Homo sapiens: one gene and its partners. The protein of the gene in region 1 purifies or fractionates together with the protein of each later gene. This does not show direct contact. Each region holds a gene or a part of one and is shown in the gene's direction. Other genes may lie near its edges.

What was found.
Region 2: the proteins of PRSS50 (region 1) and PIGT purify together in Homo sapiens (affinity purification with mass spectrometry; 2 studies listed by BioGRID and IntAct, with this or other methods). This does not show direct contact.
Region 3: the proteins of PRSS50 (region 1) and EARS2 purify together in Homo sapiens (affinity purification with mass spectrometry; one large-scale study listed by BioGRID and IntAct). This does not show direct contact.
Region 4: the proteins of PRSS50 (region 1) and FASTKD1 purify together in Homo sapiens (affinity purification with mass spectrometry; one large-scale study listed by BioGRID and IntAct). This does not show direct contact.
Region 5: the proteins of PRSS50 (region 1) and TOR3A purify together in Homo sapiens (affinity purification with mass spectrometry; 2 studies listed by BioGRID and IntAct, with this or other methods). This does not show direct contact.
Region 6: the proteins of PRSS50 (region 1) and FKBP14 purify together in Homo sapiens (affinity purification with mass spectrometry; 3 studies listed by BioGRID and IntAct, with this or other methods). This does not show direct contact.
Region 7: the proteins of PRSS50 (region 1) and DNAJA3 purify together in Homo sapiens (affinity purification with mass spectrometry; one large-scale study listed by BioGRID and IntAct). This does not show direct contact.

The regions. Positions count from the first base shown.
Region 1 is NC_000003.12:46,715,070-46,719,131, reverse strand, and holds the start of PRSS50 (probable threonine protease PRSS50 precursor), read left to right. Parts: upstream 1-1,262; 5' UTR 1,263-1,307; coding exon 1,308-1,413; intron 1,414-1,494; coding exon 1,495-1,695; intron 1,696-3,434; coding exon 3,435-3,597; intron 3,598-4,062. UniProt on the Homo sapiens protein: May be involved in proteolysis through its threonine endopeptidase activity.
Region 2 is NC_000020.11:45,419,141-45,422,640, forward strand, and holds part of PIGT (GPI-anchor transamidase component PIGT isoform 1 precursor), read left to right. Parts: intron 1-154; coding exon 155-255; intron 256-332; exon of another isoform or gene 333-363; coding exon 364-450; intron 451-995; coding exon 996-1,083; intron 1,084-1,191; coding exon 1,192-1,289; intron 1,290-1,387; coding exon 1,388-1,553; intron 1,554-2,242; coding exon 2,243-2,443; intron 2,444-3,500. UniProt on the Homo sapiens protein: Component of the glycosylphosphatidylinositol-anchor (GPI-anchor) transamidase (GPI-T) complex that catalyzes the formation of the linkage between a proprotein and a GPI-anchor and participates in GPI anchored protein biosynthesis.
Region 3 is NC_000016.10:23,523,303-23,526,350, reverse strand, and holds part of EARS2 (nondiscriminating glutamyl-tRNA synthetase EARS2, mitochondrial), read left to right. Parts: intron 1-971; coding exon 972-1,107; coding exon of another isoform or gene 1,108-1,224; exon of another isoform or gene 1,225-1,331; intron 1,332-1,896; coding exon 1,897-1,980; 3' UTR 1,981-3,048. UniProt on the Homo sapiens protein: Non-discriminating glutamyl-tRNA synthetase that catalyzes aminoacylation of both mitochondrial tRNA(Glu) and tRNA(Gln) and participates in RNA aminoacylation for mitochondrial protein translation.
Region 4 is NC_000002.12:169,567,366-169,570,865, reverse strand, and holds part of FASTKD1 (FAST kinase domain-containing protein 1, mitochondrial), read left to right. Parts: intron 1-1,613; coding exon 1,614-1,682; intron 1,683-3,500. UniProt on the Homo sapiens protein: Involved in the down-regulation of mitochondrial MT-ND3 mRNA levels which leads to decreased respiratory complex I abundance and activity.
Region 5 is NC_000001.11:179,094,283-179,096,496, forward strand, and holds the end of TOR3A (torsin-3A precursor), read left to right. Parts: intron 1-685; coding exon 686-936; 3' UTR 937-1,714; downstream 1,715-2,214.
Region 6 is NC_000007.14:30,020,203-30,023,702, reverse strand, and holds part of FKBP14 (peptidyl-prolyl cis-trans isomerase FKBP14 precursor), read left to right. Parts: intron 1-886; coding exon 887-1,038; intron 1,039-3,398; exon of another isoform or gene 3,399-3,490; intron 3,491-3,500. UniProt on the Homo sapiens protein: PPIase which accelerates the folding of proteins during protein synthesis. Has a preference for substrates containing 4-hydroxylproline modifications, including type III collagen. May also target type VI and type X collagens.
Region 7 is NC_000016.10:4,435,868-4,439,367, forward strand, and holds part of DNAJA3 (dnaJ homolog subfamily A member 3, mitochondrial), read left to right. Parts: intron 1-1,534; coding exon 1,535-1,618; intron 1,619-3,500. UniProt on the Homo sapiens protein: Modulates apoptotic signal transduction or effector structures within the mitochondrial matrix. Affect cytochrome C release from the mitochondria and caspase 3 activation, but not caspase 8 activation.

The DNA.
Region 1 (4,062 bases):
GGGGATAGGGCAGAGTGCCTGCCTGGGTAATGAATGTGTGAGATCACTATGCCCTGAGCTCCTGAGCTGCCTTGGTGACCTCCATTAGACTCTACAGCACGAGCAAGGCTACTGGAGGTAGCCAAGCTGAGGACAGAGCCTTGCCCCTGTGTGAGGAATGAGGGGCTGCTCAGACCTGGTGGTCCTCAGGTGCTGAGCAACCAGCCACCCCTATCCCTTAGGGCACCTGAAGGGTGTGATTTACTGTCTTTTCAGAGATTGGAGCATGGATTGGCCAGCTCAAGTGTGTATCCCAAGACCACAAGCCTGGACACATGTTAGAATATCCTGGCTTGATTTAACTTTCACCGTACCTTAGAAAAAAATATTTTCTTGTAGAGATGGGGGTGCTATGTTGCCCAGGCTGGACTCGAACTCCTGGGCTCAAGTGATCCTTCTGCCTCAGTTTCCTGAGTAGCTGAGAGTAGCTGGGACAGGTGCATGCCACAATGCTGGATCACCTTATCTTCTATTAGGCTAGAATTTTCCAACAGCTTTGAGTACCCCACATGACTTTTTAAATGTATTACCCTCCTGTGTCACTGAACCATCAATGTGTTCCCCAAATTGTAACATGCAAAGTGACCTCCTCATCCCACAGTGGCGCAATGGTAAGCACCAGTGTTCCTCTGTGGAGGGACCCTTTGCCTGCACTCTCTTTCCTAAGCAGATGGATCTGTGGGGCAAGGGCATCTGCTGAATGGGGTGGGGGTGGGGTGTAGTTGCTTAGAATGAAGCAGTCTTTCAAAATCATTATTTAAAACACATCTATCTGCTTAATTTCAGTTCCTTGGGCAAAGCCCCACTGGAGGGGCTGGAGGGAAAGTAGGGTCACTTGGAGATCCTGGATGCCAGCCCCTGAGGTTTGGTCTTCATCTCACTGCGGGAGGGGTGACACCATGAGCCAGTCCAGGGCAATGGGCTGCGAGGGTGAGGAGGTCTGAGAATCGGCCGAGATTAAGTTGAGGGACTCCAGGAGACTGCTTGGACCAGCGGAGTGAGGAGAGGGAGGGGCCAAGGAGGGAAGTCAGCCGGGGCGTACCCAGCCCGGGAGGTATAAGGGAGGGCTGTCACTAGGGGCGCCCTTGCGGGTCAGACACCACGAGCGCCGTGGCGGGTGGCCCCTGGGGGGCGCCACGCAGGCGGGGCACTAGGAGCATCCCCACCCAGCTCACCAGAGGCCGCGGCATGCGGCCAACAGGGGGCGCCGTCGTGGGGGCGGCACTGGGAGCGCCTTCCGGAGAGACGCAGTCGGCTGCCACCCCGGGATGGGTCGCTGGTGCCAGACCGTCGCGCGCGGGCAGCGCCCCCGGACGTCTGCCCCCTCCCGCGCCGGTGCCCTGCTGCTGCTGCTTCTGTTGCTGAGGTCTGCAGGTGAGTCCCTCCCGATCCCTACCCCACCCGCCTGACGCGGCCCTCGCCTTCCACCTCTAATCCGCTCGACGTCCTCCGCAGGTTGCTGGGGCGCAGGGGAAGCCCCGGGGGCGCTGTCCACTGCTGATCCCGCCGACCAGAGCGTCCAGTGTGTCCCCAAGGCCACCTGTCCTTCCAGCCGGCCTCGCCTTCTCTGGCAGACCCCGACCACCCAGACACTGCCCTCGACCACCATGGAGACCCAATTCCCAGTTTCTGAAGGCAAAGTCGACCCATACCGCTGTGAGTACCAGGGGTGTAGACTCCGTGGGGCAAGGAGGGTGACAGAGGAGTCTTAAGGACCTTGGCTGGGGCTAGGGGAGCAGAAGGGACGGGGGCGAGCAGGATAGAGGAGCGCCTCCTTCTACAGGTGTTCATTGAGCACTAAACACCTGTGGGTCAGGCCTGGTCCTGTCTGGAGGCCCAGAGCTCTGGGTGTCTTGTCCTCACAGGCCTCCCCTCCTGCTGAGGTAGGGGGCAGGAAAGTCAGAGGGGCCTGGGGCCGGCTGTGTGTTCCCGCCTCGCCTGAGCTGGCTGTGGGGCAGGTGGCCTCTCACCCTGCTCCAGGCCCTGACACCCATCATGCCTCTGACCCAGGCTCCCAGCCAGGGACCTCTGGGATCTCCAGCACAGCTTTCAGGGCCAGGCTGTGTGAGCCTTCCTGTGGTGTCTCCAGGGTGCACACGTAAGACGTTCTCTTGCCCAGTGGCTTTCAGGCATGTTTAACAGACCCACATAAGACTGGGACTCAGCACATAGCATTTAACTGCCACAGAAAGTCACCCAAACAGGACTTCCAGTACCCTGTGCTGTGCATGCCGATGTTTTCTTGCCTATGTTATCCTTTAAAAAGGCTGGTCACGGCCCACTTACATTTACAATCCACGAATCCATTTGGAAAACACTAGGAATGGGACTCCTGAGATGTTGGATATGTGCATCTTCAATCTAGAGAAATTGTTTTCCAAAGCGGCTGCAGCAGTGAGCACTCCCACCAGCCGTGGGTAGGCATTCTGGGTGATAATCCTCACTGACACTCGGTGTCACAGATGTTGCGTTTTTGCCAGGCGGATGGTACAGAGCAGAATCTCATCATGATTGAAATCTGCATTTTCAGGCTGGAGGTAGTGGGTCATGCTTATAATCCCAGCGCTTTTGGAGGCTGAGGCAGTAAGATCACTTGAGGTCAGGAGTTTGAGACCTGCCTGGGCAACATAGTGGGACTCTATCTCTCCAAAAAATTAAAAAATAAAAAAATTAGCTGGGTGTGGTTGTGTGTGCCTGTAGTCCCAGCTATTCAGGAGGCTGAGGTGGGAAGATCATTTGAGCCTAGGAGTTTGAGGTTACAGTGAACAATGATCATACCACTGCACTCCAGCCTGGGTGACAGAGCAAGACCTCATCAGAGGAGGAGGAAAAGGGAAGAGAGAAGAAGAGGAAAGAAGAAGAAGCAGTCTGCATTTCCCTGCAGACTAAGGGCGGAGCAGCTTCTGTGGTCATTGGCTACTGGGATTTTCTCCTTGGACTATGCCCATTTTTCTGTTGGGGCATCCACTTTCCTCTCACTGAGCCACAGAAAGGGGTTCCCAGAGGAGGGAGAGAGCTCTGCCTTGGCTGAAGTAGGGGACATGGTGAGGGTGGAACCAGGTGGAAATGAGAACAAGTTAGTGAAGGATCTGATTGGAGCTGAGAGTGTGTTGGTGACGGCAGAGGGGCCAGTGGTACACTGGGCTGGTCGGCTGGGGATGCTCTAGGGCCCGGGCTGTGGGAACAGGGAGAGAGATATCTGGGCAGTGCTTGGACCCTTCTGAGGCATGAGACTCCAGTCCACATGTGGACAGCATCATTCCATGGTGACAGGTGAAAAGGGAGCACCCCTGGATGGGTGCAGGCCAGTGGCTGGAGAGGCACGAGGTCAGGCTGGGGGAGGGGAGGGACAGGGAAAGATCCATCCCTCATCAAGCTCTCACCTTCCTCCTCAGCCTGTGGCTTTTCCTACGAGCAGGACCCCACCCTCAGGGACCCAGAAGCCGTGGCTCGGCGGTGGCCCTGGATGGTCAGCGTGCGGGCCAATGGCACACACATCTGTGCCGGCACCATCATTGCCTCCCAGTGGGTGCTGACTGTGGCCCACTGCCTGATCTGGTGAGTCAAGGCTGAGGTGGGGTGGGTGGAGAGGTATTTGGAGCTGCTGTGGGCCCAGTCATCCCCTCCCTGCCAGCTGTTCTGGGCCCACAGTCCCAGCCCCAGCCTCATCTGGGCTCCAAGCAGGTGGAGGCTGAGTCCTGAAAATTCCTTCAGAGCTCCAGTCTTTTCAGTGTCCCACCGTTCGCTCCCCTCGTCTGGCCTCTCAGTCCCGTGCAGTCATTCCGCAGATGGGAAATGGAAGCTCAGAAGCCATTTGTCTGGCCTCATGCCTCCTCTCCACGGGAAGAAGCTCCTAGTTCTTTCATTTCACCCCCTTTGCACCCACATCCTTGTTCCTCCCTTCAATCAACCGTCTCTGACACTTCTTTGAGCAAGGCCCTGGCCTGGACACTGGGGGCAGAGGAGGGATGGATCATTCCTTCCAGCTTGTTGGGGGAGACAGAAAGGAAGATAGATGCTCAC
Region 2 (3,500 bases), on another chromosome or scaffold:
AGGAGAGAAGGGAGTCCTACTCCCAGTTGGGACTGTCCAGACTGTGGTGCTAGAGGTGGTGTGGGGAGCAGGAGGGTCATTCCCATCTCTGGAATGTGGATCCCGAGGGGTCAGAGCCCAAGGCCCACCCCAGACAGACCTCTGTCTCCCTCAGACACTGACCACTACTTTCTGCGCTATGCTGTGCTGCCGCGGGAGGTGGTCTGCACCGAAAACCTCACCCCCTGGAAGAAGCTCTTGCCCTGTAGTTCCAAGGTGAGGCCGCAGAGCCTGGCAGCCGGGGGCGGGGGGTGTATAGAGAACCTGCGCCCCATGCCAAGTGCTCCATACAGGGCTTCTCTTATCTCTTTCCATCTCCTCCAGGCAGGCCTCTCTGTGCTGCTGAAGGCAGATCGCTTGTTCCACACCAGCTACCACTCCCAGGCAGTGCATATCCGCCCTGTTTGCAGAGTAAGTCATGGGGAGTAGAGGAAGCTGCCATCCAGGGGCTCAGAGAAGGTACATGTAAAGCATGTGGTCAGTGTCTGGCTCAGGCTGAGTGAGTACTGAGTGGTAGATGTGATGACGGTTATTCAGGGCATTGGCCAAGCACCAAGAAAACAGTGGTTGCCTAGCAAGCACTGAATAAATATTTGTCATGGAAAATAGTGGTTCAGAACAATAGCTATGCGGGTGCAATTGCTAGCTCAGTCACTTGCCAGCTGGCGTAACCTTGGGTGAATCATTTCATTCCCCTGAGCTTGGTTTCCCACCCTGCCACATGACATTGATAGTAGAATCCACTCCTAGGGTTGTTGTGATAGTTTATCAAACTGATGCACATACAGCTGTCAGCACGGGGTCTGGCACGAGGTCAAGTGCTCAGGAGTGGGTGGTAGCAAATCGATGGATGTGAAGATACATAGATGAGGGATTGAGTCTGAGTAGGAGTCTTTTTGGGGGCTGTGTGGTGAGAGTGATACCCCCTCACTGCTGCCATCTGGCCCTTGTGATAGAATGCACGCTGTACTAGCATCTCCTGGGAGCTGAGGCAGACCCTGTCAGTTGTATTTGATGCCTTCATCACGGGGCAGGGAAAGAAAGGTAAGTTACCTTGGCAACTCATCTGTACCCACCCATGCCAGCCCTGCCTTATCTATGTGGACTAGGCCTAGGCCTGGCCCCTGCTCAGCCCTGCGCTCTGTTTCTCAGACTGGTCCCTCTTCCGGATGTTCTCCCGAACCCTCACGGAGCCCTGCCCCCTGGCTTCAGAGAGCCGAGTCTATGTGGACATCACCACCTACAACCAGGTAACAAGGTCTCCAGCCACACACACAAACACACCGCTGGTCCCCAGGACCAGCCTACCCTCTCTGCTTGCTTCTTAGCCCTGCCTTTGTGTCCCCAGGACAACGAGACATTAGAGGTGCACCCACCCCCGACCACTACATATCAGGACGTCATCCTAGGCACTCGGAAGACCTATGCCATCTATGACTTGCTTGACACCGCCATGATCAACAACTCTCGAAACCTCAACATCCAGCTCAAGTGGAAGAGACCCCCAGAGAATGGTGAGTGGGTGGTTGGTTGGACTGCTGGGTTGCAACGGCTACAGAGAAAAGACTCACAATCCCACGTCTTTGCCGTTAGATGATTGGGTTGTATTTAGACCAGATTTCCAGAGTCATATGCTGCTGACTGTAGCTATTCCAAGCTCTACGATTTTGGGTAGGTTCCTAAACTCCCCAAGCTTCAGCATCCACATCTGAAAAATAGAGTATACTTAGCAAATTGGATGAGATGATGTGAAAAATGGAGTTAGTTCATGCATTTGCTTAATCAACCAAATACTTTTGAATTCATACTAAGTGCCAGGCATAGAGTGTTGAATAAGACAGAGGACACTGCACTCAAGAAATATAAGTCTACTAGCTAGGGCAGGTGTCAGTTAATTAATTACAGTTGTGTTCAGTTCCCTTACCAAGGGAAAGAGCAGAATATCCTGAGAGGACCTGGATTGGGTTCGAAGGGGGCACGGTGTTCGTCACGTAAGCACTTCAATACTAGCAACCTATTGTCATCATCGCTTGTTGGCTGGGGAAGACAGGGATGATTCCAGAACCCAGATTGCCCAGTTTCAGTGGCAGGGCTGTTCCCCATCTACTCACTGGCTTGGGACTCTGAACATGGCCTGGGCAGGTGGGGTGGGGAGTGATTCTTACCTTTGGCAGCTGTTAACTGTTGATATTTCTTTACACAGAGGCCCCCCCAGTGCCCTTCCTGCATGCCCAGCGGTACGTGAGTGGCTATGGGCTGCAGAAGGGGGAGCTGAGCACACTGCTGTACAACACCCACCCATACCGGGCCTTCCCGGTGCTGCTGCTGGACACCGTACCCTGGTATCTGCGGCTGTATGTGCACACCCTCACCATCACCTCCAAGGGCAAGGAGAACAAACCAAGTGAGGACCTGAGTCCTGAACCAGGCCCCCAGCCCGCCCTCTCATGTCCTCTCCAGGTCCCCCAAACTCTCATTTCCCAGGGTAGTTCCTGAAGTACCTCTGAAAAGCTACACAGGCATAAAGAGTAAGGAATAGTTTCTCAAAACTGGAACGGGAGCCTCACTGTGCCAGGTTCAGAAGTAATTTATAAAACAGCAATAATTAAAACACATAATACTGGTGATTCTTAATAGGACTGTACAAGGACAGTAGCTTCCTTTTTCACTTACTTTTGCCTCCTTTCTGGAGCATTGGGTTTTGTGATGATTCATAGACTCTTTAAGGTAGGGAAAGGGTTTGGCAACGTTAGGCTTTTGAAGCTAGGAAGATAGCAGAGCTGGAGTAGATGGTGTTTTGCTTCCTTGGGAGGGGTAAAGAGGTACAGTTAATTAAATTTTTTTATTTCTATTTTTATTAAAATTTATTTTTATTTTCTATTATTTTTCTAAGGAGAAGATAATATTAGTGCTTCCTATTAGGTGCCAGGCATAGCACTAAAGCACTTGCCTTTCTTTGGTGTAGGGGGAGACTAGTAGTAAAGTAAAAGACCTCTGAGGAAGAGGTTGTACCATATCCCAAACGGCCAAACTTAAAAACCTTTCAGTACTTTAGTTGATTCCTATATTTTCAAACATACGGTGAATAGTTTCACTTATTTTCAGCACCATTATTTGTACCACCTTCAAAATCTCTATTTCAGACATCCTAACTGCATATTCTATAGGTTTTTCTGTTATTATTCTTTTAAATCTTCTCCTTTGGAAAATTTCAAACCCAAACCCAAACAGAATAGTGTAATAATCCCCTGTACACACCCTGCAGCCTTTTTTTTTTTTTTTTAAGAGACAGACTGTTGCTCTGTCAGCTATGCCGGAGTGCAGTGGCATGATCATGGCTCATTGCAGTCTCAGACTGCTCGGCTCAAGCAATCCTCCTACCTCCGCTTCCCTAGGACTACAGGCATGAACCGCCATGCCTTTAATTTTTTCACAGAGGCAGGGTCTTGTTATGTTGCACA
Region 3 (3,048 bases), on another chromosome or scaffold:
CACCTGAGGTCAGGTGTTTGAGACCGGCCTGATCAACATGGTAAAACCCTGTCTCTACTAAAAATACAAAATTAGCTGGGCGTGGTGGCACGTGCCTGTAATCCCAGCTACTCAGGAGGCTAAGGCAGGAGAATCGCTTGAACCTGGAACGTGGAGGTTGCAGTGAGCTGAGATCGTGCCATTGCACTCCAGCCTGGGCAACAGAGCGAGACTCCATCTCCAAAAAAAAAAAAAAAAAAAGGTAATATTTCTGAGTATTTATCATGTGTTCAGGCACTTGGTGCTTTATAAGTTTTAACTCTCTACGATAGCCTTGTGCAGGACAGATACTATTATTTTTTTTTTTTTATTTTGAAACAAAGTCTCGCTCTGTCACCCAGGCTGGAGTGCAATGGTGCAATCTCGGCTCACTGCAACCTCCTCCTCCCAGGTTCAAGCAATTCTTCTGCCTCAGCCTCCTGAGTAGCTGGGACTACAGGCACCCGCCACCATCCCTGGCTAATATTTTTGTATTTTTAGTAGAGATGGGGTTTTACCATGTTGGCCAGGTTGGTCTCGAACACCTGACCTCAAGTGATCTGCCTGCCTTGGCCTCCCAAAGTGCTGGGATTACAGGTGTGAGCCACTGCGCCAGCCTCAGATACTATTATTCTCCCCACTTTACAAATGAGAAAACTGAGGCATAAAGATTGCATGACACAGAGGTAGCAATGAGTAAAGCCTCTTATGGCACCTCTTACCTCCCTGCATTGTGACCACTGGCTTCTCTGTGTGTGGTCCCTTGGTGGTTTTTCCTTCCCGACCTGGATAAGGGAGAAAGTGGTCAATATCTTCCTCACCTCCCTCAAAACAGGCTTGAACATTGGTTGTGCTGCTCGTACTGTAGCTGATCAATAACCTTCTGAAGCCCTTCCTCCCACCCACTTGCCATTGGCCCATGCAGGCCCTGTAAACTGGCCCTCTTCTTCTAGGCTTCTAGAAAGATCTAGTATGAGCTTAACTCAGGATATGCTGAATGGAGAACTGAAGAAGCTATCAGAAGGTCTGGAAGGCACCAAGTACAGTAATGTGATGAAACTCCTTCGGATGGCCCTCAGTGGACAGCAGGTGAGGCAGGGACACGGGTTGGATTGTTCCCTGGAGCCCCTCATTGATCCTTTGAACTTACATTTCCTGGCAGGCACTGAGCTCAATATTGAGTATACAAAGGTGAATGAAACATGATCACTCCCCTCATTTAGTCAATCAACAGACACTATTGAGTACCTACTATGTGCAAGCATTGTGTTAGGTACAGTGAATACAATATAGAATTAAACACACATACATAATCTCTGCCTCCATGGGGTTTGCAGTTTATTGGGGATAACAGACCTAGCAACAGCTTACTTAATATGGGAAAATCAGGCCAGGCACGGTGGCTCACACCTGTATTCCCAGCACTTTGGGAGGCCTAGGCAGGTGGATCACCTGAGGTCAGGAGTTTGAGACCAGCCTGGGCAACATGGTGAAACCTTGTCTCTACTAAAAATACAAAAATTAGCTGGGGGTGGTGGTGCGCCTGTAATCCCAGCTACTTGGGAGGGTGAGGCACGAGAATTGCCTGAACCTGGGAGGCAGAGGTTGCAGTGAGCCAAGATCGCACCGTTGTATTCCAGCCTGGGTGATAGAGTGAGACTCTATCTCAAAAAAAAAAAAAAAAAAGGGCGGTGGTTGGAGGAGAAACAGGCTCTTAGGACCCATCCTTTTCCAGGGAAATAACACAAGCACTGATCCTCAGAACACAGGCAGCAGTGTGGGGGCTGGCCTGGGAATAATTTCTGCAGACTAAGGCTGAGCTTCAGTTCTTTAGGCTGTTTAAGGTAGTAAGGCAATATTTGCTCTTTTTGTTCTTAGCAAGGACCTCCTGTAGCTGAGATGATGTTGGCCTTGGGACCAAAGGAAGTACGGGAACGGATCCAGAAGGTGGTTTCCAGCTAGGGAGAGGATGTTTCGGGCAGTGGAGATCGCCCTAAGAACCTGTGAGCTTAGAAACAGCTTTCAGAGACCAGAAGGAGGCCTGGGGCCCGTCGGGAAGTTTGCTGAAGGAACTAAGAGTGGAAACAATCTCTGACTGCACACAAGTGCATTTGTGATCCACCACAGGCACGTTTTTGTCAATTGGCTGGGGAAGCCCAACCCATCTAACCTCCTGGACTCTGGAAAGGCATTCTCCGGGTCTGGTTTCTCACACATTACACAGCAGAGGTTTGGAGTTAGTTCACAGAAAAGTTAACATCCCGGAACAGTGCAGAAGGCTTGGGTTTCAGTTTGCTAGGGCCCCCATAACAAAATGCCACAGAACCAGGTGGTTTAAACAACAGAGATTTATTTTCTCACATTTGGAGGCTAGAAGTTCAAGATCAAGGTGTCAGCAGGCCTGGTTTTTCCTAGAGGCCTCTTTTGTTGGCTTGCAGACAGCTGTCTTCTCACTGTGTCCTTGTGCGGTCTTCCCTCCATGCACACACATCTCTAAGTTTCATTATGTGCCCAACGTTCCTCTTCTAAGAACACCAGTTGGACTGGATTTTAACTTTAACCAGCCTCATTTAAGTTAATCACCTCTTTAAATGCTCAATCTCCAAGTACAGTCTCATTCTGAGGTTCCAGGGGTTTCTCAACGTAAGAATTTAGGGGGACAGAATTCAGCCCGTAGCAGCTGGGCAGCAGGACTCATGGGTCCCAGTTCTCAGGCCCCAAGGACTCAGAGCAGCAAAGGATACGTGACACAAGCAGGGCTGAACTGGACACCAGACTTTCTTTGGGGTTGTAAAAGGAGAAGTGTGACTCCACTGCCAAGGGTAAGCACTCTTGTCTTATGCTACCCTTTATTCTTGAACCTTGGGGCAGCCTGTGTCTCCCTTCCCTAAACGTCATCTGTTCCGTTTTTCCAGTCTTCCAGACCTGGTCCTTGGACTGGAGACCTTCACCCTTCCTATTTTGTGGCTTTCTCTTCAAATCCACCTCGTCCTTCCTCCATGACTTATAAGTCATCATCTCTGCTGGTTT
Region 4 (3,500 bases), on another chromosome or scaffold:
TGCCTCTACTAAAAATACAAAAATTAGCTGGGCGTGATGGCAGGCACCTGGAATCCCAGCTACTCTGGAGGCTGAGGCAGGAGAATCTCTTGAATTCACGTGGTAGAGGTTGCAGTGAGCACAGATCATGCTACTCTACTCCATTCTGGGCGACAGAGTGAGACGCTGTCTCCAAAAAAAAAAAAAAAAAGTAATGCCTAATAACAATCAGCAATTAGTAAATTTTGTCTGTGATAACTTGTTTGCAATCTCGTTATTGTAATTAAATGGACGGCACATATGTTTTCTAGGGGGTATTGGTACAATAGGTTGTTTCTCAATAATAGCCCTTAAAAGGAAAAAGAAATAAAATGATTTTGTAGATTCATTTATATTTGATAACAATGTTATACAAATTATGTGGATGGTTGATAGGTATTACGTAAAGAAGGGCTTCCTTGGTGTCAGTGGAAAAACTCAGAGATAAATGTTAAGAAATATTACATTCCAGTTTTGGGATTTGTGAAGAAAAAATGAAGAGAGCAAAGAAAAAAGGAAAAAAAATAAAAAGAAATATGTTGTTTGCAAGGAAATCCAGCCTTCAAAAGAACTGGGTTCCCTGAATGAAGGCTTCAGCAGTTGTACAAGGGGGAAAAAACAAAAAAGTTACACCTAATCTGTTTATTAGTCTCACTGATGAAAAAGAGCAGTTTTCTCACATGATGACCCAACCTTCAGGGGTTATTTAAATGGCTGTAAATATCAGCATTACGTAAGTTAGAGACGTGTAAGTTGTTTTTGTAAGAGAATTGGCATTTATAGGAAAGGGGCTTGGGGCTTATATTGGGGATTGATGTTAAACTGAAAAAGGATGATTCCATGTTTTTTGGTGGCCTTTCTCAGGTTACAAAGTTGTTTTCTCTGAGGTACTTGAAGGGGATGCTTAAAGTTTTGTGAATAAGGTGATTGGTGACTATTAGCTTTTTAATTTTTTTACAAACATTTTCTTATAAAAATATTTTATTTATTTATTTATGAGGTGGAGTCTCACTCTGTCACCGAGGCTGGAGTGCAGTGGTGCAGTCTCGGCTCTCTGCAACCTCTACCTCCAGGGTTCAAGCAATTTTCCTGCCGTAGCCTCCTGAGTAGCTGGGATTAAAGGCACATGCCACCACGCCCAGCTAATTTTTGTATTTTTAGTAGAGACGGGGTTTCACCATGTTGCCCAGGCTGGTCTCGAACTCCTGACCTTAAGTGATCCGCCCGCCTCAGCCTGCTAAAGTGCTGGGATTACAGGTGTGAGCCACCATGCCTGATCAAAAGTATTTAAATCAGAACAAAGACATATTATATGTACTTTTAACATAAATATATTGTTGAACATTATCATTGGTCAGTAGCATGGGTATTGAAATAAGCAGATAAAAGGGTGAGAGGGCATGGGATAAAGTATAGATGTTTATTAGGCTGTACCAAAAAATCAGAATATTGAAATAAGAGTGGACCAGAAATAAGGACTGCCTGTATAAGAGGAAAATAACTTGAGTTTCACTTTTGCATTATCATTCGTATTGCATATGTTTTTAATGATTTTAAAATGATTATGTATGGAGGATTCTTTCTTTTTTATTAAGGTTTGCTGGTGAGGCCCATGACCCGCTAGTTGAAGCACTAGTTACAGAAGCATGGAGAAGGCTAGAAAGGCAAGTACCCTGGGTTCATCTTGAAGATCAGGGTTATTCTTTTCAGGGTTAACAGAGTGAAATCTTGAAGGGAAAGAACAGGGAACTGATGCCTGTCAAGCTTCACTGAAAAAAATGTATTTAAACTCAGTTTAGTTTTAAAGTTTTTGATTGTGTAATGTGTTGTTGTTTTTTTTTTTTTTTTTGAGATGGAGTCTCACTCTGTCGCCCAGGCTGGAGTGCAGTGGCGTGGTCTCAGCTCACTGCAACCTCTGCCTCCTGGGTTCAAGCAATTCTCTGCCTCAGCCTCCTAAGTAGCTGGGATTATAGGCACCCACCATGACTCAGGGCTAATTGTTTGTATTTTTAGTAGAGATGGGGTTTCACCATCTTGGCCAGGCTGGTCTTGAACTCCTGACCTCGTGATCCACCTGCCTCAGCCTCCCAGAGTACTGGGATTATAGGCGTGAGCCACCGCTCCCAGCCATGTCTTTTCTTTTTTCTTTTCTTTTCTTTCTTTCTTTTTCTTCTCTCTTTTTCTGTCTCTCTTTTTTTTTTTTTTTTTTTTTTTTTTTTAATGGACAGGGTCTTGACATGTTGCCCAGGCTGGTTTTGAACTCTTGGGCTCAAGCAATACTTCCTCCTTGGCCTCACAAAGTGCTGGGTTTATATGCATGAGCCACCATGCCTGGCTGTGTATTCTTTAAGAGAGAAAAGAAAGTATTTCATATTTTTCCTCTTTAAGAGTGGGGAATAGTATACTTTTCCACACATGTAATTAGTTGAAATATAAATAAGATAGAGTCACAGCTATTCATGAACTAGCCTTTTTGAATCTTCTTTTCTAGAAGAATACTTCAGAAAGGAAAGATTCTTGATTAATTGGCTATCAATAAAAACCTAGAAGTGCAGGAGCCAGGAAAGGAGAAAAAAAGAGACCCTAGTTTATTAGAGAGGAAGGCCATTTAACACTGTTTAGGAGCATCTGTAGCTACTTGTCTGTTACTCCATTTTTAAGGAGAGGCAATGACCAGAGCTTATAGGTGACTTAGAAGCTTTTTAAAGAAAGTGAGTTTCAGGTCCACTGCTGTGGACAGTATTAATTCAGATATATTTCCTATATTGTACACAGCTCTATTTTCAGCATGTTGCCTTACTTGATAATCATTCAGAAAAATGGGAAATCTTGTGAGTACAGAGAAATTTATTCTCTAATTATATATCAGAAGCTCTTTATTTATAAAAGGGCTGAGATAATAGCAGACTCATTTTGGGAAATCTTCATCTATTTCTGAAAACTTTGAATTTTTTAATCTAGGAACTCTGGATGATTGTAGTCTATTGTTAGTGGAATAAGGCAAATGTTAGGGAGGAAAGAAAAAAATCAGGGTGAGGAAGAGATAGGAGGATATTAAAAACTACAGAGCAACTCTCCCTCTAAATCAAATGGAAACCAGACAGGAAAGTCTTGACTAAGATGAAGGAGAAACAACAGGCTATTTATTTGTAGACAGAGAGGAGCGACCATTCTGATTTTTAAAATATTTTTAACATATTGCCTCTTAAAGCTTAAACTATAATAAATACTTATATATTGGTAAACTCTGTAGGCCTTTATTACATGGGCTGGATTAAATTAAGGGACAGAACAGTTCTCCAGATTTAGAAATTCTGTATTAATCTACTAAGTTGTGATTTTAAGTTAATCTTATTAGCTAAACCCATCTGTCTTCTTTTATACTCTCTACCTATAAGTATATTGAGGGTAAGCAGAGTAATCTTATTCCTTTTGCTAACAGTACAAATTATCTATTTACTGGATCTTTGGGGTTAGATTTG
Region 5 (2,214 bases), on another chromosome or scaffold:
GAATGTGTGTTTATGAAGCAGACAGGGTACTTGGGAACACAGAGGGCAGACTATAATCATCTCACATTGTCAACCCTGGGTGGGCACAAGAAAAGTGGTAAGAAAGCCTGAGCTCCTTTTCTGGGAATGCTTGGAAATAGTAGTTTGCACTGGCCCCAAGAACAGGCGCAGTGGTCTCTGAAGCCTGAGACTCTGAGTCTCACTGCAAGACTTTACCTAAAGGAGACACAGCTGTAGAGTTCTTGACATACGCTGCAGACAGCACTCCTGGAGTTGAGAGATGAGATCCAACCTCACCCAGCCCCTTCAGTCGGGGCCAGGTGTGGTGGCTCACACCTGTAATCCCAACACTTTGGGAGGCTGAGGCGGGCGGATCACTTGAGTCCAGGAGATCTAGACCAGTCTGGCCAACATAGTGAAACCCCGTCTCTAGAAAAAAAACAAAAATTAGCCAGGTGTGGTGCTGTACGCCTGTGGTCCCAGTTACTCACAGGCTGAGATGGGAGGATCCCTTGAACCTAGGAGGTGGAGGCTGCAAGGAGCCCAGATCTCACCACTGCACTCCAGCCTGGTTGACAGAGCAAGCCCCTGTTTCAAAGAAACCAACAGCAACCCCCACCCCCGCTAAATTCCAGCTAGGTTCAGTCCTAGGTCAGACTCCATGTAACTTTGGTCTTGCTTTCAGACAATGGCTTTGGCCACAGCCGTCTTGTGAAGGAAAACCTGATTGACTACTTCATCCCCTTCCTGCCTTTGGAGTACCGTCACGTGAGGCTGTGTGCACGGGATGCCTTCCTGAGCCAGGAGCTCCTGTATAAAGAAGAGACACTGGATGAAATAGCCCAGATGATGGTGTATGTCCCCAAGGAGGAACAACTCTTTTCTTCCCAGGGCTGCAAGTCTATTTCCCAGAGGATTAACTACTTCCTGTCATGAAGGCTAGAGGAAGACTTCCTGGAACTGCCTTTCTTCCACTAACAGGACCCTGGGACCTGTAGGAGCACCCCGTTTGGGACTGTGAGGTGTTTGAGGGTGTGGACTGGCATCCAGCAGCCACTAACAAACACACAACTGGTGTGTAAAAGGCAGGCCTTACATTAGAAGCCAAGCCAATCCTTTTTCTTTTTTTTGGAGGTCCCACCGAGATAGATAGGAACTTGGATTGCTGAATTCAAAAACAGAGCCCATTCTTAAGATCACTTGGTGCCTTAAAGACACGCATTCCAAAGTGGAATGTGGTTGAAGAAAGTGGGCCAGGTGGTTGAAGAAAGCCATGTGGGAGCTCAGCAAATCCCAAGGGCTTATTATGACACTCCAGATGGTCTCCTTAGCATCTCAGCTCTTCTGCAAGGAAGAGCTTGGGTGTTAGGCCTCAGAGGCTGTAGGGTCCTTGGGTTACAGAGCCGGGGAGAACGAAGTTCTGTGACCCAGGGGTGGAGAATACACTCTAGGTTTGCAGGCTGGTGGGCTTTCAAATTGGTACTTCCAGAGGAAAGCCAAGCTGCTTCTGTTGTGAGCGAATCAGCCAAGAGCCTGAGGCTGAAGGGAAAAGTACACAGAGGAAGATATTTTACAAACCAGGTCAGTGTAGGCCAAGACTTATGGTCTACAGATTTTGGCGGGGGAGGGGGGACCTTTTCAAAGACAATAGGGGGTCTTGACATGTTTGTTGTATGTAAAGATGATAAGATTAAAATTTTTGATTTTCCTAAAATCCTTGGCGTACTTTCTGTTTCTGAGACCTAGCAAAATTTCAAACAAACACTGGGTAATCCTGATAAGGCCTGGCAGAGACAGGGCAGATGCTGGCACACACGGAGCTGGCAGGGTATGTGACTGGTCTGCCTGTCTAGTCTGTTTGCTTTGGGACCACATCAGTGAAGCCAAGTCATGCCAACCTCCTACTGAAGAGACTCCCATAGCACATTGCTCTTATATATGAAAATGTTCACTCCTGTACTCTCAGCTATAAAAAGAAAAGCAGTCATTCTGAGGATTAAATGGCACCGTGTAGACATGTAGCACTGTGCCTAGACACAGTGTTCATTATGTGCCTTTCCCCTTTTCTTGGTTCTTCTCCCATGCCTCTGGAATAACACAGGTCTTTTTTCCCTATGTTTTTTATATATTAATTATACACACATATAGAGTCAGGGTGTCACTATGTTGCCCAGGCTGGTCTGGAACTCCTGGGCTCAAGCTATCTTCCTGCCT
Region 6 (3,500 bases), on another chromosome or scaffold:
GCCATGATTGTGAGACCTCCCCAGCCATGTGGAACCGCGAGTCCATTAAACCTCCTTTTCTTTATAAGTTACCCAGTCTTGAATATTTCTTCATAGCAGTATGAAAATGGACTAACACACCAGTCCTTGAGGGGCTACTCTTCCAGACTTTCCTATATAGCCCCACTGTAGACCCCTGAGGAGGAAACTGGGCTAGGGTCTGAGTGGGGATTTAGGGATGAAAAGCAGCCTTTTCTACCCGTCAGAGCCATCAGCAGGCCATAGCTAAGGCAAGTTTGTAGGCAGGATATAAGACACTGTGCTTCTCACTCTTCATATCTGTGTGCATATGGACCCACATATGTTGGCAGTAAATTCTCCTTAGCCTTTCAATCTCCTTCCCAAACTCAGCCATTTTTCCATTATTTTCTCCTTGTTCTGCAACCTAGTGGCCTTCCTGGGACAACATAACTTTGTGATTAAGACCTTGAACTTTGGAGTTAGGTTTAAAGACTGGAACTTAACCTGTGTTTCCTCATCTGTGCAATGGGGTAGTAATGGTACTTATATTATAGACTTATTGTAAGGGTTAAGAGGCAAAAAATAAAATAAAATTTAGAATAATTCCTGGTATACAACAAATGTTCAAATGGTTGTTGTTTTTATTATTTCCTCTGTCTTTCTTAAGCCCAGTCAAGTATGTGAAATTTGCATCAAGAAAGATGGGCAGTGAATTGAATTCCTATAAACTTGACTTGGAGGTGTGTGTGTATGTGTGCAAATACAGAATTGCTGTATTTATAAATTTTTAAACTAATAAACTTAACCACTTACTGGTGGGAAAATGCACTAAAGAAAATTTTTTAGAGTTAATAAGGAGTTCTAATGTGTTTTATTTCTATCATAGTCACAAACATAACAATGGTCAGCCCATTTGGTTTACCCTGGGCATCCTGGAGGCTCTCAAAGGTTGGGACCAGGGCTTGAAAGGAATGTGTGTAGGAGAGAAGAGAAAGCTCATCATTCCTCCTGCTCTGGGCTATGGAAAAGAAGGAAAAGGTAATAGTATTTCTGTATTTTTCTTACTATAGCACTAGAGTTGTTCTCTGGATTAGGAGACAGAAGTTAGAGTCACTATAACTTTTTTTTTTCCCCTGGAAGTTAATAGGGGGTATGTATTCCTTTAGCAACTGTATTATGTCTTGAGTATCAATTGAAATGGCCAGTTTAAGGCCGTAATGTCTAAATGGGCAACTATGCTAACAATAAAAAAAGAACATTGAGGTCTATTAATACTGTTCACAAATATGGTGGGTTGTTTTAATTGTGATAAAATATACATAAAATTTTTCATTTGAACCATTTTTAAGTACACAGTTCAGTGGCATTAAATACATTCATGTTATTGTGGAACCATCACCACTATCCATCTTCAGAATGTTCTCATCTTCCCAAACTGAAACTCACCAATTTACTTTAACAATGCAGAGAGAAAGATCCATTAACGTAAGTGTTTGGATGAGTTGAACATGTGAAATATAGATTATTAAAGTATTGAATGCATTTTAGATGTGGGTTATATATGGGTTGTACTTCATGAATATTAAGTCTCCCACAGCAAACTGGGAGTTCTTTTCATTCCCGTTTTTAAATTTATTTATAAAGTTTTTAACAATGTATTTAAAAAAAATCATAGAGTGACATGAAATGAATTTAATTCTCCCTGTGTCACAAAGCAGAAGCAAGCTGGCTAGCTGGTCCGGACAGCTTTTGTACTAGTTTTTCAGGGCAGACACATATCCTGCTGTTCAAGTGAGAACCCCTGCAACTTTCCAAAGAGCTGCTTTGTGATATATATCAAGAGGTCTGGGCCAGGCATGGTGGCTCACACCTGTAATCCCAGCACTTTGGGAGGCCAAGGAGGGTGGATCACTTGAGGTCAGGAGTTTGAGACCGACGTGGCCAACATGGTGAAACCCTGTCTCTACTAAAAATACAAAATTAGCTGAACGTAGTGGAGTGCACCTATAATCCCAGTTACTTAGGAGGCTGAGGCAGGAGAATTGCTTGAACATGTGAGGCAGAGGTTGCAATGAGCCAAGAACGTGCCACTATACTCCAGCCTGGGGGACAGAGCCAAACTCCATCTCAAAAAAAAAAAAAGAGGTCTGAAGATGTCTATATGCATTTATTCTATAATTCCTTCAAACCTAAGGGAATAATTAGATATCAGGAAAAAAATTTGTGAACAGGGATGTCCATAATTGCATTGTTTCTAAGCAAAAAATTGGAACTGTCGTAAGTGGTATACTGGTAAGAATTTAGCTAAATAAAATATGGCCCAGTTATTTAAAATGGCATTTCCAAAGAGTTTAAAAATTATATCTGAAATGCATGAGATACAGTATTATATATAAAAGTAGAAAATAAACCTATAGTATATATGATAGTAAATATAGGAAAAGGTACATATACATAGAAAGTTAATCATAAGGAAATAAATAAGAATGTTAAAAATGGACTGTGATACTGGGAATCATATTTATTTCTGGTTTTATCATCCAAGTATGTGCTCTACAATGAGCATGTATTACTTACATAATGAAGAAAAAAAAGTTTAAGTAGTCATCAGAACCAGACAGACAACTACTCTGATATAGTATAAATATAGACTTCATAGCATCCTGAAGTCTAAGGTTAACCACTGACAAAAGTGAGGAGTCAGGATTCACAGCCCATTTCCTGAGAAGGAAAATAGATGCCATATGGCAAGCATTATATATTCCAAAATATACAAATCTATACAAATCTTGTTCATAGGATAAGATTAACTAACCAAATTCAATTCTTCTTTTAGTCATAATCCTCTTTAGAGAAGAAAACCAAGTATCTAGAAAATTTTTTCTGATGCTGAGAATGTTTTCATTTTATCTTTATTGTCTCACCTTTAATATTTACATACAGTAGTTCCCCTTTACCTGTGGTTTCACTTTCTACCGTTTTAGTTACCTGTGGTCAACTGCAGTCTGAAAATATTAAGGTATTTTGAGAATGAGAGACAGATTGCATTCATATAACTTTTATTATGATATGTTGTTGTAATTGTTCTATTTTATTATTTTTAATCTGTTACTATGACTATTTTATAAATTAAACTTTATCACAGATATGCATGTATAGGAAAAAGCATTGTATGTATGGGGTTTGGTACTATCCATGGTTTCAGGCATCTAATGGGATTCTTGGGACATATCCCAGTGGGGACTACTGTACGTTGTATTAGTCCATTACTCTTTCTCATACTATATTTAACTCAAGTTTACTTCACAATAAGTAGAGATCTAAATTTGAGTCATTTCCTTCAAACTGAATGCCATGAAACTAATTTTTCTAATCTGTATTTAACACTAATTTTGTAGTCTTTTAGTACATGCTTGCATGCCTCTTTTGGAAAGATACCAGTTTTATCAACAACCTAGCGCATGTCACATCTCTGTCTAGATCTGAAATGGTAAGCTTCA
Region 7 (3,500 bases), on another chromosome or scaffold:
CTGGATGTTTAACCTTTTGAGAAGCTGCCAGCCTTTTTCAAAGCAGCTGCACCATTTTACATTCCCACCAGCAGCATATGAGGGCCATGATTTCTCCACATCCCAGTGAACACTTAACTATTATCGTCTGTCTTTTTAATTACGACCCTAGTGAATAAGAAATGCTATCTCGTTAGAGTTTCGATTTGCTTTTTCCCTGATGACTAATGATGGTGAGCATCTTTCTTGTGCATGTTGGCTATTAGTATGTCTTTGGAGAAACGTGTGTTTGGATCCATTGCCCACTTTTAACTGGGTTGTCTTTTTTTTTTAATTGGGTTGTAATGGAATGAACAGAGGCATGGGGACAGGAAGCAGAGATCCTGGCCTGTGAAGAGCGAATGGCCTGTCTCTTCCTGAGCTCAAGAGTCAGGTGCCTGATCCAAGAGTGGGAAAAGATTGAAAAGATGGAGGCTGGGTTGGACTCACATGACAGTTGATTTGAGGCCCTTAGTAAGTCCCAGAGACATAATTTAAGAGAAAGACTTAATTTAGAGAACCATTCAGATTTTTAGGCACGGAAGTAAAAAGATCAGGTAAAGCTGTAGCAATTACTGTATTTTATTTACCTACAAAAATAATTGAAACAGCAGAGACGTCTATTTATTCAGTCATTTTCTTCCCTTTTTAAAAATTTTTTCTTTTTTCAGACAGAGTCTCGCCGTGTGGCTCAGGCTGGAGTGCAGTGGTGCAGTCTTGGCTCACTGCAACCTCTGTCTCCTGGGCTCAAGCAATTCTCCTGCCTCAGCCTCCCGAGTACCTGTGTTTATAGGCGCGTGTGACCATACCTGGCTAATTTTTGTATTTTTAGTAGAGATGGGGTTTCGCCATGTTGGCCAGGCTGTTCTCAAACTCCTGACCTCTGGTGATCCACCCAGCTCAGCATCTCAAAGTGCTGGGATAACAGGCATGAGCCACTGCGCCCGGCCCCCTTTTTAAAAATTTGTTTTTCTTTTTTGTTCATTTACCTATTCTAAGCCATGCTGGGTGCTAAGGGCAAAGATACATCAGAATCAGTTCCTGCCCTCAAGTTAAGAGATGGATACATTAAAACAGATCATTATTATTATTATTTTGTGGGGCGGACAGAATCTCACTCCGTCACCTAGGCTGGAGTGCAGTGCCTCGATCTCTGCTCACTGCAACCTCCACCTCCCAGGTTCAAGTGATTCTCGTGCTTCAGCCTCCTGAGTAGCTGGGACCACAGGCATGTGCCACCACGCCTGACTAATTTTTTCTATTTTTGGTGGAGAGGGGTTTCGCTGTGTTGCCCAGGCTGGTGTTGAACTCCTGAGCTTAAGTGATCTGCCTGCCTTCACTTCCCAAAGTGTTGGGATTACAGGCGTGAGCCACTGCACCCAGCCGAGAGACAACTTTTATAAAGGGAACATAATTATGACTGGTATTTGGGGTTCTGTTGTATCGGGGGTTTTGTTGTTTCTGGTATTTGGGGTTCACATTGTATCTGGAGTAATTTATCATGTTTTTCCCTTAGCTTGCCAAGAAGTATCACCCTGACACAAATAAGGATGATCCCAAAGCCAAGGAGAAGTTCTCCCAGCTGGCAGAAGCCTATGAGGTAATATGACTTCGGTGCATGCGGTCACTGCTGTTCAGCTATGTGTATGAATCAAAGGTTGCATTGCTACCTGGGACAGCCTGGTGTGTCATACAGTCCAGTGTGAAGGCCATGTCCCTGCGCCAAGTAATCTTGTTAAGAAAAATAAAAAAAAAGAGATTCCAGGCCAAGCATGGTGGCTCACTCCTGTAGTCCTAGCACTTTGGGAAGCTGAGGCAGGAGGATCACTTGACCTCAGGAGTTGGCTTGACCCTAGGAGTTTGAGACCAGCTTGGGCAATGTAGTAAGACCACGTCTCTACAAAAAAAAAAAAAAAAATCACCAGGCGTGGTGGTGGCGCACCTGTAAACCCAGCTACTTGGGAGGCTGAGTCAGGTTCATCACTTGAGGGGCTCAAAGCTGCAGTGACCCATGATGCCATGATTGTGCCATAGAACTATGGTCTGGGCAACAGAAAAAGACCTTCTCTCAAAAAATAAAAAATTAAAAAAAAAACAAAACAACAACATTCTAAGACTAACTTGGAATCTCAATGAAGAACAGGATCCAGGCCAGGCGTGGTGGCTCATGCCTGTAATCCCAACACTTTGGGAGGCCGAGGCAGGTGGATCACCAGGTCAGGAGATCGAGACCATCCCGGCTAACACGGTGAAACCCCGTCTCTACTAAAAATAAAAAAAAATTAGCCGGGCATGGCGGCATGCGCCTGTAGTCCCAGGTGCTGGGGAGGCTGAGGCAGGAGAATGGCGTGAACCCGGGAGGCGGAGCTTGCAGTGAGCTGAGATTGCGCCACTGCACTCCAGCCTGGGCGACAGAGCAAGACCCCGTCTCAAAAAAAAAAAAAAGAACAGGATCCAATAATCTGTACTAATAAAGTTCCCCAGGTAATTTACACTTGTAGCTGGATTTGGGAATTCACAGTTGGATTAATTAATTCAGCCCTTATTCAATGACATCCCCTTCCTCCACCTCAGGGCATCACTGCTTTTTGGGGATAGAGGTTATTGTAAAAGTAGAAGCCCATTATTGTCCTATAAGAATGTCAATGTAATCAGAGGACAAAGCATACATCTCTGAAAACAGCTATTGACCCCACTTCCATAGTTTTCTGAAAGTAGACCTTTTTCCCAGATTTTTTGACAATCTTTTCTTTTTTTTTTTTTTTTTTTGCTTAAGAGACAGGGTCCCTCTATGTTGCCCAGGCTGGTCTTGAACTCCTGAGCTGAAGAGATCCTCCTGCCTCAGCCTCTCAAATTGCTAGGATTATAGGTGCAAGGCACCAGACCTGCCCGACTTTGGCCATCCTAAAGGGGTTCAGTATATATAGGAGCTCATATATCTATAAGAGTAGACAGCCACGTAGAAGAACAGGCTCAACTCAGTAAATCTTTTTTGAGTAAATATCTGTCAACTAGATCTAATGAAAAGTTTATTTACTAGTGTAATTTTAAAATAATATGTTCTTATTAGGTAACTCAAACTAATTGATAACATAACTAAACAGTCTTGGAACCTGCTTCTATGGAAGATAAGATTAATTTTTTTTTTTTTTTCAAGAGTTGAGGTCTCAGCCAGGTGCAGTGGCTTACGTCTATAATCCCTATAATCCCAGCACTTTGGGAGGCCAAGACAGGCAGATCAGGAGGTCAGGAGTTTGAGACCAGCCTGGCCAAGAGACCAGCCTGAGCAATATGGTGAAACCCCATCTCTACTAAAAATACAAAAATTAGCCAGGTGTGGTGGTGGGTGCCTGTAATCCCAGCTATTCAGGAGGCTGAGGCAGGAGAATTGCTTGAACCCGGGAGGCATCAGTGAGCCGAAGATTGCGCCATTGTACTCCAGCCTGGGCAACAGAGCGAGACTCCCAATCAAAAAAAAAAAA